Linked DNA regions of Homo sapiens: region 1 is linked to region 2. Evidence: fine-mapped expression QTL. A gene starts in region 2. The other region holds a variant in brackets. All regions are shown on one strand. Distances are between the middles of the regions.

What was found. PIP is the estimated chance that this variant, and not a neighbour inherited with it, causes the effect.
Region 1: its variant is the best candidate, but not a certain one, in a credible set for the expression of RETREG1 in neutrophils (Naranbhai 2015, PIP 0.87).

What each region holds. Positions count from the first base shown.
Region 1 is chr5:17,442,056-17,447,430 of GRCh38, reverse strand. LINC02218 (long intergenic non-protein coding RNA 2218) reads right to left here and starts at 3,421. Exons shown (of 3, transcript NR_134270.1): 1 at 3,197-3,421. The variant AG/G (reference allele first, on the strand shown) is at 2,133.
Region 2 is chr5:16,614,688-16,620,059 of GRCh38, reverse strand. It overlaps RETREG1 (reticulophagy regulator 1), which reads left to right and starts at 3,063. Exons shown (of 9, transcript NM_001034850.3): 1 at 3,063-3,408. The coding sequence starts at 3,089. It overlaps RETREG1-AS1 (RETREG1 antisense RNA 1), which reads right to left and starts at 4,134. Exons shown (of 4, transcript NR_109946.1): 1 at 3,574-4,134. RefSeq lists a silencer at 2,820-3,309.

The DNA of each region.
Region 1 (5,375 bases), 830 kb before region 2:
AGGGTAGTCTCTTCTTACCTTAATCTACATGTTTCTAACCCATCATTATCTCAAAGTTATCACACACACACACACACACACACACACACACACCACAGTTTCTCGACTTCACTGAAACCCACTGTCCCCTAAGGATACTGCTTCTCCTCTCAAGCAGGGGCTGGGAGATATTTTCCATCAAACTCCAAATATCTCAGTATCAGAACCAAGGCAACGTCCTCCTGACTACCCAATGCCACTTGCAGACGAATGACTGCACTCTCTTTTGTAAGTTGCTCCTTTGAGTAGTTGACAATAAGAGCTTCTTCTCCCTCTAGTCCTCACTTAATCATTTGGTCACTCCTTAAAGAATTTAGCACTCAACTCATAGTCTCCTTTTCACCCAACCCTACCATCATGCTAAGCAGATTTAACATCACTTGGATGCACCATCAACACCTTGCCCAGCAGTTCCTTACCCTGATACCCACTGATAGTTGTCATCATTCACCTCAAGCACCAACTTCCACAGTCACACCATGAATTTGGTTAACATTGGAAACTGCACTTCAGATAATTCTGCAATAATATAAATACCTTCACAAACACCACCACCACCATCTTCAACTTCCCTTTCCAATGGCCTTGTTTTCGTCCCCTCATACAACACTTCTACCTATCAAGAACTGCAATCCAGTGACACTTCAACTTTCTCTACATTCATCAGCCTCCTCAGCTCTCCACATCTCTCCATCAGTACAATGTCACCTCCCTCCCCCGTGTCCACCTCCAACTCCTGGCTTCGTATTTTATCTGGCCTATTCCTATTCATCCTTACTCGTACCGCTTTCTTAGAAAGGGGCTATCCAGACTTCTAAGCTAGATGATGTTCTTCTGTTAAGCCACCTTGTAAGTTCTTTGTGCTTTTCTTAGCTATTATTCAAGCACAACAATGATCATATTGCAATTAATGTCATTGTGGATTTGAACATGGAAGGTCTATTTTATCCTAGATTGTAAATTGGTTAAGAGCAGAGATCATGACTGTTTTACTCTCAATTACATATGTCAACTAACACCATGCCTGGCACATAGAAGGCACTCTAGGAATATATGTGGAGTCACACACACACATACACATACTTATGCATACACACTCATACACTTACCCATGAAGATTTCTTCCAGTAAATGGGTATCTGTATTATGCAAGCAACATGAAATCAGAAAGAACATTTTGGGGTTTTTGCTGCCTAACACCAAAACTAATTGCAGCCACTCTTCAAAAAAATGCAATAACTTTATAAACAGCCACATCCTGATTCTTACGGTTGAAAGCTCTCCATTCTCTGCTGAATATTCATCCGTTGAGAGGGACACTAGCCTAGAAGCTCAGCACTTTCTGAAAAGAGAAGCAGCAGGAATAGAAGATGTGTGGAGAGGAAAGAAAGTCAAAGGCAGGCTCCTGCAATGCAAAGGTGCCAGGAACAACGGTGCAATCCCAGGCTGTGTAACACAGGATGGAGGAGGGAGATCTCACTTTTATTGTAAATAGCAGAATTCTTTAAAGGTAGCTACATTAGCAATCAGATCTCATAGATGCTGGAAACACAAACACCTCCTTTCTCATTAAGGGTAGGGGGATCCAGCATAATTTCTCTGGACCAGGAAGATGGAGGAGTCTTACTTCTCTTGCCTTCCAACTGCATCCCCCACTCAATCCTAGATTGCACAAGGAAGTCAACACTACCTCCCCCAACAAGCTCCAAATCCCTCTCTTCACAGCATTGTCAATTGAATCTCTTCATCCAATCTTGGAAACAGTCTGGAAAAAGAAGCAGAGGAGAGAAGAAAGGGGAAAAGTTCAAAAGTACTTTAAACTCTGCCAAAAAAAATCAATTAGTACCAATATACACAGAGAAATGAATGACAGAAGTCATCGCAGCAAGGTATTTCCTCATGACTCCTTCAACTGGCCAGGGCCAAACCAAGGTGTGCAAATAATCTGAGCAACTGTACACTTTGGCACACCTTTGCTATGTATACATACCTTCAATATGTATTTACAGAAGCTGGAAATTGCACAGGGCAGGACCAGGAAAGAACGGGCAGAAATGTTCAACTGCATGGCCAATGTCCTGAGCTTTAGCCCC[AG/G]AGTTGTGTGTCCTACTCTGAAGCCCTACAAGTCATAGGACCCATTCACCCCAGAGCCAGTGCAGCCTATTTCTTTGAGATCTCAGTCCCATCTCTCTAATGGTATCAAAGAACCCTCCATTTACATTTAGTGCTCTCTTTGAAAGGAGCCATGATAGACTTTAATCCAAATTTACAAAAAGAAAAACTGGATTCCAAAGAACGATATAATTAGCATAAATACTGGGACTACACACTGCCACATAATAAAACAGAAAGCATCAAAATATATAATTGTGTATAGCACCTATACACTAGCATAGGTCAAACAGCTGAATGATTAAAGGAGTTTTGTTTTGTTTTGTTTTAATCAGTCAACTAGGAACTTCTTAATGCAGTCACTTTGGCATGATACAAACAAAATCTTTCAAACTACAACACATCTTAGAAACAGCAAATACTACTGCTGTTCACGTAGCAAGGAAGGTTACAAGTAAATCTCCCAATATCTCAGGTGTAAAGAAGTGTTCTAACAAGGTCCATTTGTATTAAATCAAATCACCAGACTAAGGCATCTATTTTGCACCACTTACTCAGAGCAACAGACAAAAAGACAGGCCTTTGGGTTTATTTATATAAACATTCTTCCACAGGTAGTCACAGAGGAGGAAGGAGTACAATGTAATTTGATGGTGGATGAATTTGCACAAAAAGGAGACTAAAAAAGAAAGATTATTGTGACCCAACACTCACTCTTTACTTTTTAAAGTTGTGGGGAAAAGAAATGGCAAAGCTTTCTATTTCTGTAAGCTTTTGTTGTAAAGAATTGAATAAAAAATAGCAATACCTAATCATCTCTAAATTACTTCAACTAAAAACACCACTAAAGACCTTATAATCTTTTTTTAAAAAATTCATTCTCATAATTTCTTCCTTGGCCCTGAAAACGATGGTTTAAAAATAGCTTGATTTGCATCTTATTCTTTTACTGCCTTTCTACAAATACATTTTGAAATGCTTGCTTACGGAAAAGCTGTTGCCTGCTTAGCTTTCATCATGTATGAGATCACACTATTTCGCTCACCTGGAACTGTCGTGTTCTCTGTTCCCAGCAACGGTCCGATAAGGAGCATCCTTGCTAAATGATATGTTTAAAGTATGTATAGCTACGTGTATTTTCAAATGCATAACCAATTTCTTAAAAGAGATGGTAACTCATGCCAGAAGCAAGGAAAAGATTGAAAGGCAGGCCTGGAAACAGAGCTGGCCCAGTAGCAGCTCCAAATATGTCAAAATGCTAGTGTTATTTAAGACACCGATACAATATCCCTGATGATGAAACAGGAAACGTTCCCTTGCGCCACCCGCAGGGTGTGCAACAGGAGGAGTGGCTCGCTTCTTCCGTGCCCCACTGCTCAAACCTCTAGGGGAGCATGCGGACGGCTGGGTTGTGGGGCTCCAACCCAAGAGCAGTGTCTAGGGGTGAATGTTTACAGCTGAAGCCCCAGTGGGCACACGTGTGTTACAGGGTGCTCTTTTAGTTTTGCCATCTGTAGGCGACTTGTGTTAGTCAGCTCAATTAGACCCCCTGGCTTATCTCAAGGACAGAGGACTTTCTGTATCCCAGGGTCCTTGCCTTGGTGTACCGGAAGAATCAGATCACACGTGGGCTTGGAGAATGAGTTCAAGGTTTTATTGAGAGGAAGTAGCTGTGAGCAGACAGGGGAGACAGAAGGGAGATGGAGTGGGAAGGTGTAGTTTCCTGGAGTCAGGCCACCTAGCGGCCTGGCTCTCCTCCAACCACGCAGCCAAACTCCATGTCCTTCCGCCAGTCGATGGCCTGCCAGGGTCTGCCTGTCGGCGTGCTCTTGTTGACGTCCTCTGGACGTCCAGCCGCTTGTGTGAGTGCCCACTAGTGTTTCGGGGTTTTTATAGGCACAGGATGGGGGCGTGGTGGGCCAGGGTGGTCTTGGGAAATGCAACATTTGGGCGCAAAGGCAGGAGTGCCTGCCCTTACCTAGGTCTGTGGGCACAGGCACCGGGGTGAAGCCCTCGCCAGAGACCTGCTTTCTCCTCCCAGCACTTCCCTGCCCCCCTCCCTTATCAATAACATCTGCATTTGTAGCTGGGTAACCAGGGTATTCTTCATACAGCTGCAAGTATCTGGCTAATATATTGATAGGGTTTGGATCTGTGTCCAGGCCCAAATCTCACGTTGAATTGTAATCCCAGTGTTGGGGGTAGGGCCTGGTGAGAGGTGATTGGATCATGGAGGAGGATTTCTCATGAATGGTTTAGGACCATCCCTTTGGTGCTGACGGCAAGACAGTGAGTGAATTCTCAAGAGAGAGTTCTGGTTGTTTAAGAGTGTGTGGCACCTTGCTCGCTCTCTCTTTCTTGCTCCTGCTTCAGTCACATGAGGTGCCTGCTCTCATTTCACCTTCCACCATGAGTCAAAGTTCCCTGAAGCCTCCACAGAAGTAGACCCAATATGTTTCCTGTACAGCCTGCAGAACCGTGAGCCAATTAAAGCTCCTTTCTTATAAATTACACAGTCTCAGGTATTTCTTTATAGCAATGCCAGAACAGCCTAATACATACATTATGTCTTCAAGTGGGGGTGAAGACATGCTGAACATTTACTTCTTGAAATATCCACTATATGATAGTCAGGGTGTTGTATGTTTAAAGCATGTATGTGTATAGCTTACGTTATTAAAAATTATTGTTTTAGAATAGAAAAAGGAAGAGTGATAAAATATTAGGCTGAACCATATGAAATTGCTGATATTTTATAACTTTTAGTCAACAAAATTCTCAAATGAGAGCTTTGGGTCCAATAAGTTTGCTTTGCCCCAGGCAACTTGCCCCACTAGTGTAATTCGGGGTCAAGCCATGTGCAAGACTATCAGACAGTTTGCACATCCAAGCATGACCACTCCATGCTCTATTATGCTAAGACAGTCTCTGTAACTTTTCTGCTTTGAGTTAAGTTACATAAGTCCTCTTTCTGTTACCCAACATTTGTGGGTGCCAGGTCCCTGAAAGGAAGCTATAGGAGCAGGTAAAAATTCTTTCCATATTTATTTGTGTGGAATTTTTACTTTTTGACTGTATACCAGATGTAAGGAAGTGTTCTTGCTCTAGGGCCATCTGTCATTGCAGAGGTAGGATAGATTCACATAATGATAGAGTAGAAAAAAATAAGTAAAGTGACCCAGGTTTAAATCCTGTCACCTGCTGTTATTGGTTGTGTTTCACTT
Region 2 (5,372 bases):
GACTTCCTATAGTGGGAATTAATTATTCATAATTTTTCCTCTCCTATTACAAGCTTTCCACATACTCTTAGATGAGAAAAGTGAGTGGCCTCTGTTAGAGAGTTCTTATGTGCATTTGGACTTTCTTTACTGGAGCTGTCTCATTTTCTAAACTCTCATTCAGTAGCTAGAACTTTTTTTTTTCTCAGACACGTTTCCAGTTTCCTTTTCTCAGATATATATTGTCAAATCATCTAGCTCACTAGTGTTAATCACTCTGTTCCTAATATATAGCAATAAAATTTCAGAAGAGAATCTTAGTAAGATTACTTGCAGGAGTTCAAGAATGTGGCGTGTTCTTAAAACTAGGGGACAAGGTTGATTTCAACCATTGTTAGCATTATGTTTCTGTAATCTTAGCCCTGAATAAATTACTCAAGCATCACAAAGATCATTAGACAAACAACAAAACAACAACAAAATCCCACCCAGCAGCACCATTTGTATGTCTATGCCAGTGTCTACTTCTGTCATACAGTTTGTAAGTATTAGAGGTCGGAGGTGAAAAGGAAAGGTTAATTAGCCCAGCCTTTTATGCAAAACAGGTTGCATAGCATTTTCTCCATAGTAATTTTGAGAGAGAGAGAAAGGATAGACTTTACAACACATAGCTGTGGGGAAGGAGGTTTATTATTAAACAGAGATAATAAATAAGTGTTGGAAACCACACACAGCAACTGGAGCTTAGCTTTTATGTGTCTTGGTTGCCAGCAGCTTTTACTACTTCAACAGATCCTGACAACAATAATTAGAATTCAAGGGAAGCAGGAGGAAGGTGATTAATCTTGCAAACCCATTTCTGGTAGCACATCAGCACTGGTCTGGGGAACGGGGACACCTGGTTCTTCCTCTCTCCTGCCCCATGTTCTCCACACTGGCTGCAGCACACATCTGTCTAGTGACAGATTTTAGAATAGCAAACCCTGGGCTGTATCAAGCGCCAAACAAAGGCCAAATGACACAATAAAAGCATCATTTATCTTTCAAAAACTTCTCCGCTACTGCCAAGAGGGAGGACCCACACCTGGGAAAAGATTGTCTCTCTTATATGGAAGAAACCTGAATTGTTTCCACGTTGCTTTTTCCTTGACACCCAGGCCACTTTCCATCGGGTTGTCAGGATACTCCTAAGAAGGGGAGTCGGAAATGCCAGATGTTCTGTATCACCTTTAGTTAAAAACCAAGCCTCCTGTTACTAGAGACCATTCAATGTCCACTATTCCCTTTGGTGAGTTACTTAAGGAACTGTGCGTCTCCACCTGCAACCCCATGCCTCCTCTCCTGTTGAATTCCCAACAGCAGTTATTGCCCCTGTCCCCAATCCCCACACTAATGGGGGCCCTACAATTTAGGGCAGAGGCCATTTATTACAAAACGCTCTTGAAACCTGATCCCTCCACTCCTCCCCTAATTTTGGATGCACAGTTTAAGTAAGGAATCTCTTAGCACTTAGCGAAGGCTTCTTCGCTGTGGCAGATATCACAATTGTAACTGGGCCCTCATCAGACTGGGAGCTTCCTGTGGGTGGAAGCTGCATCCACAGAGCTTAGCAATGCTTTGTGTACTCGGTAGGTGCTCAGTAAGCCTTTGCCTGGGCTCTGGGAATATAACTCCTTTGAAGTACAACATACAAGCAGTAAAGTGCAGACACCTGCAGTGAATGTACAGATCAATGGATTCCACGTGTGTATACACAGAGGTTTACAATGGCCACCCAGAGGAGCGTTACAGAACATTCCCCTAGAGACTCCCTTGACGCAGGGAATTTAATTGCCCTCCCTTCCATCCTGTGCAGGCAGGCTGGTTGCCAGTAAAGGGATATGAGATGCCCTGATGCATCCGCAGACAGAACCCTTAGTATGGGGGGGAAGGACCTGTCATTCTAGAGTAAAAGTAAGACCAGGAAGATTAAAGAAGACAAAAATTTAAAAATGCAAATGGTGAAAAGCATAAACAACTATTTTCCTCTCTCCCCACACTCACCCAGAAGCACCGGGGCCAAAGAGAGGGCATGGGAGGTCTCAGGATCCCCTGCCGCCCCACCACTGCCCTGATGCCCGCTTGTGACGCAGAGACCGGAGTGGCTCTGAAATTACTGTCTTCAAAGCAGGCCAAACCTTGCTTGACACGTGCAAAGTTCCAATCTCTTGCTTCTCAGCTCCCCGCACGCGCGGGCCAACGTGCACTTCTGAGCCAGATCACCTAGCCACAAGGAGGGGGAGAGAGGGGGAGATAGGAGGAGAGAGGGGAAGATAGGGGGAGAGACGGGGGAGAGAGAGGGAGAGGCAGAGAGAGAGAGAGAGACAGAGAAGAGAAAGGAAGCACCTGAGACAGAGAGAAAGAAGAGAGAGAAAGGAAGCAGCTTCCCCCAACGCTGCGGCCTTGTGTTTCCTCCCGTGTCAAACGAGAGGGCCCCAAATTGACCCCAAATGTTTTTTCTTCCTTTCTCAATCCAACATTTATACCAGCACGTTATTTCCAGGATGCCCAGGACCTCTGCTATGGTTGTGCTGCTGTCCCTGCAAAGGCGCTGGGGATGGCCGAGGTGGGGGATGTCTCTGGGGGCTGAAATACGCTGCCAGGGGAAGGGGCGCCCCGATACCACCCTCAGTGGCTGCTGGTTGGGCGACCGGTGGCCCTGGCTTGAGAAAGTGAAAATGTCCAATCTATTTTGCCTGGAGCCTTGGGTCTCTTTTGGATACGGAACCGAGCAGCAGTCCTCCACTTCGCCCTCTCCCGCCGCTGCAAGGGAAAAGGTCGTTTTCCTCGAGTCCCGGAGAGGCCCTCCAGGAACCCAGAGCCCCCCGGGGACACCGCCCAGCTCCCGGCGCCCGGCCCCGCCCCTGCGCGAACTCGGCCGCACCCACTTTCCCGGGCGGCTCCCCCTCCGTGGCCTGTGGCGTCACAAGGCCCCCAGCCGCCTGTGCCCCGCGGTGCGCGCCCCGCTCCGGGACCTGCCGCCACCGCCGCCCCGCCCTCGGCGGCACCCACACCCAGGCGCGCCCGCGCGCGCGCCCGGCCCCGTCCCTGTCTGGAAGCACAGCTGAAGATGGCGAGCCCGGCGCCTCCGGAGCACGCCGAGGAGGGATGCCCGGCTCCTGCCGCCGAGGAGCAGGCGCCGCCGTCGCCGCCACCGCCCCAGGCATCCCCCGCAGAGCGGCAGCAGCAGGAGGAGGAAGCGCAGGAAGCTGGGGCGGCGGAGGGCGCGGGGTTGCAGGTGGAGGAGGCCGCGGGCCGGGCGGCGGCCGCGGTAACCTGGCTGCTCGGGGAGCCGGTGCTGTGGCTGGGCTGCCGCGCCGACGAGCTGCTGAGCTGGAAGAGGCCGCTGCGGAGCCTGCTCGGCTTCGTCGCTGCCAACCTGCTGTTCTGGTGAGAGCTTGGGCAAGGTGGGGGCGCTGAGGAGGGCAGGTGACCTTGGGGCGCCCGGGGCCCCGGGGACCCAGTGCAGGGGGAGCCCGCGGGACACTGCGGAGGAAGAATTGTCAGCCCTGCCCCACTTTCTCGGCCACCTGTCTCGAACAGGTAGACACTCACCGCAACTTTCCTCCGGACGCACGTCCCTGTGAGCAGTTGTCGTTCTCCGTGTGCGGATCCAGCCTCAGATGCGAGGTGGTCGGCCGACCCTCAGGCACCTGCACCTACAGGTGTTCCCATCGTGCTTGAAAACTTCGCCCCTGCTTTCTAAAACTCTGAGGTCTTGACCTGCTCGCCCAAGCTTGCCGGAGCAAACGTGCTTGAACGTGTCTTGGTTCTTGCAGCCCCAGCAGGCATATCTGGACCAGATTAGGTACCCGTTCAAAACGGTGCCGCATTCATCAGTCACCTGAGATGGGCCCTGAATGATTTGTTTTTTCCTTCCCCTGGAGCGTTAGGTTTACTGTGTTTACTCCCTGATGAGAAAACGGGAGGCAAACAAGCAGGTGGAGTATGCCCAGCACCCACCCCCGGGTGTGCACAGTGTGGAAAACAGGCATATTTTTAGGTGAAGTACAGGGAGAACACACGGGAATGCTCAGCCCCTGAGCAACAGGTTTGTCTCTCCAAAAAGCGCTCTTCAGAAAGGCCAGGGAAATGTCTGTCTCCTTCGTTGAAAGTGGTGTCCTGTCATCCGTTACCACGCTATTGAGGGCGGAGAAAAACCTTCTTTGTTTGCTAAGTGTCCTCATAACAAACATGACCTACACAGTGCAGAATAATCAGACTCCGGTAACAGATACCTTGTTACAGGACAGAGATTTCTGAACCTTAAAGTTGAGAAATAAATAAATTGCACAAAATAGACAGCCTGTCATTTTCTAGGTTAACTTGAGCAAGATGAATATTTTCCTCAGATCTCTGCTAGTCCTGGTGTTTTCTCTTAAAACTAGCTGTATCTTGTCGGAGGTCCCTGAAAGTGAATTAACTTTGGATCTCTTAGGTATCTGTGTTTGGAATAGAGTTTATTCCAAATCTATCTTATTATGGAGTGAATGCGAGCACTCAAATAAGAAGGACATATTGTCTTATGCTAGATTGGGCAATAGTCTAATAGTCTTAGGGCTGTGTCTCACTAATGTTTACGATGTTTTTAACATTTTATTTCTTTTTCTTTTCTTTCTTTCTTTCTTTTTTTTTTTTTTTTGAGATGGAGTCTCACTCTGTCGCCCAGGCTGGAGTGCAGTGGCGCGATCTCGGCTCGCTGCAAGCTCTGCCTCCCGGGTTCACGCCATTCTCCTGCCTCAGCCTCCCGAGTAGCTGGGACTACAGGCGCCCGCCACCACGCCTGGCCAGTTTTTTGTATTTTTTTTAGTAGAGACGGGGTTTCACCGTGTTAGCCAGGATGGTCTCGATCTCCTGACCTCGTGATCCGTCCGCCTCGGCCTCCCAAAGTGCTGGGATTACAAGCGTGAGCTACTGCGCCCGGCCTTAACATTTTATTTCTTAATTTTAAATTTTATTTCTTTAAAAAACTAATACAGTCTCACAGTGCAAAAGTTTAAAGGTACAAAAGGGTAAGCATTTTGAAAATCTCTTTCTCATCCCAGTCCCTGGCCGCCCAGTTTCCTCACGGAGGCCAGCAATGTTGCTAGTTTCCTGTGTCTCTTTCCAGATAGTGCACATTTCAGCAAATACACCATATTCTATGCAAATTGTGGAATAACATATGAGCTCTTCCTTTTCCTAGTATTTCTTGGTGATTGCTTCCTTGTTCTTTTTCAGCTGCTTCAGAATTCTATTGTAAGGATGTCTCAAATTACTTAACCTGTCTCCTACTGAGGCAGTAATGTTTCCAAGCTTTTGCTATTTCAGCATTATAGCTAATGACCCTGTACATGCATCATTTTGCATATATG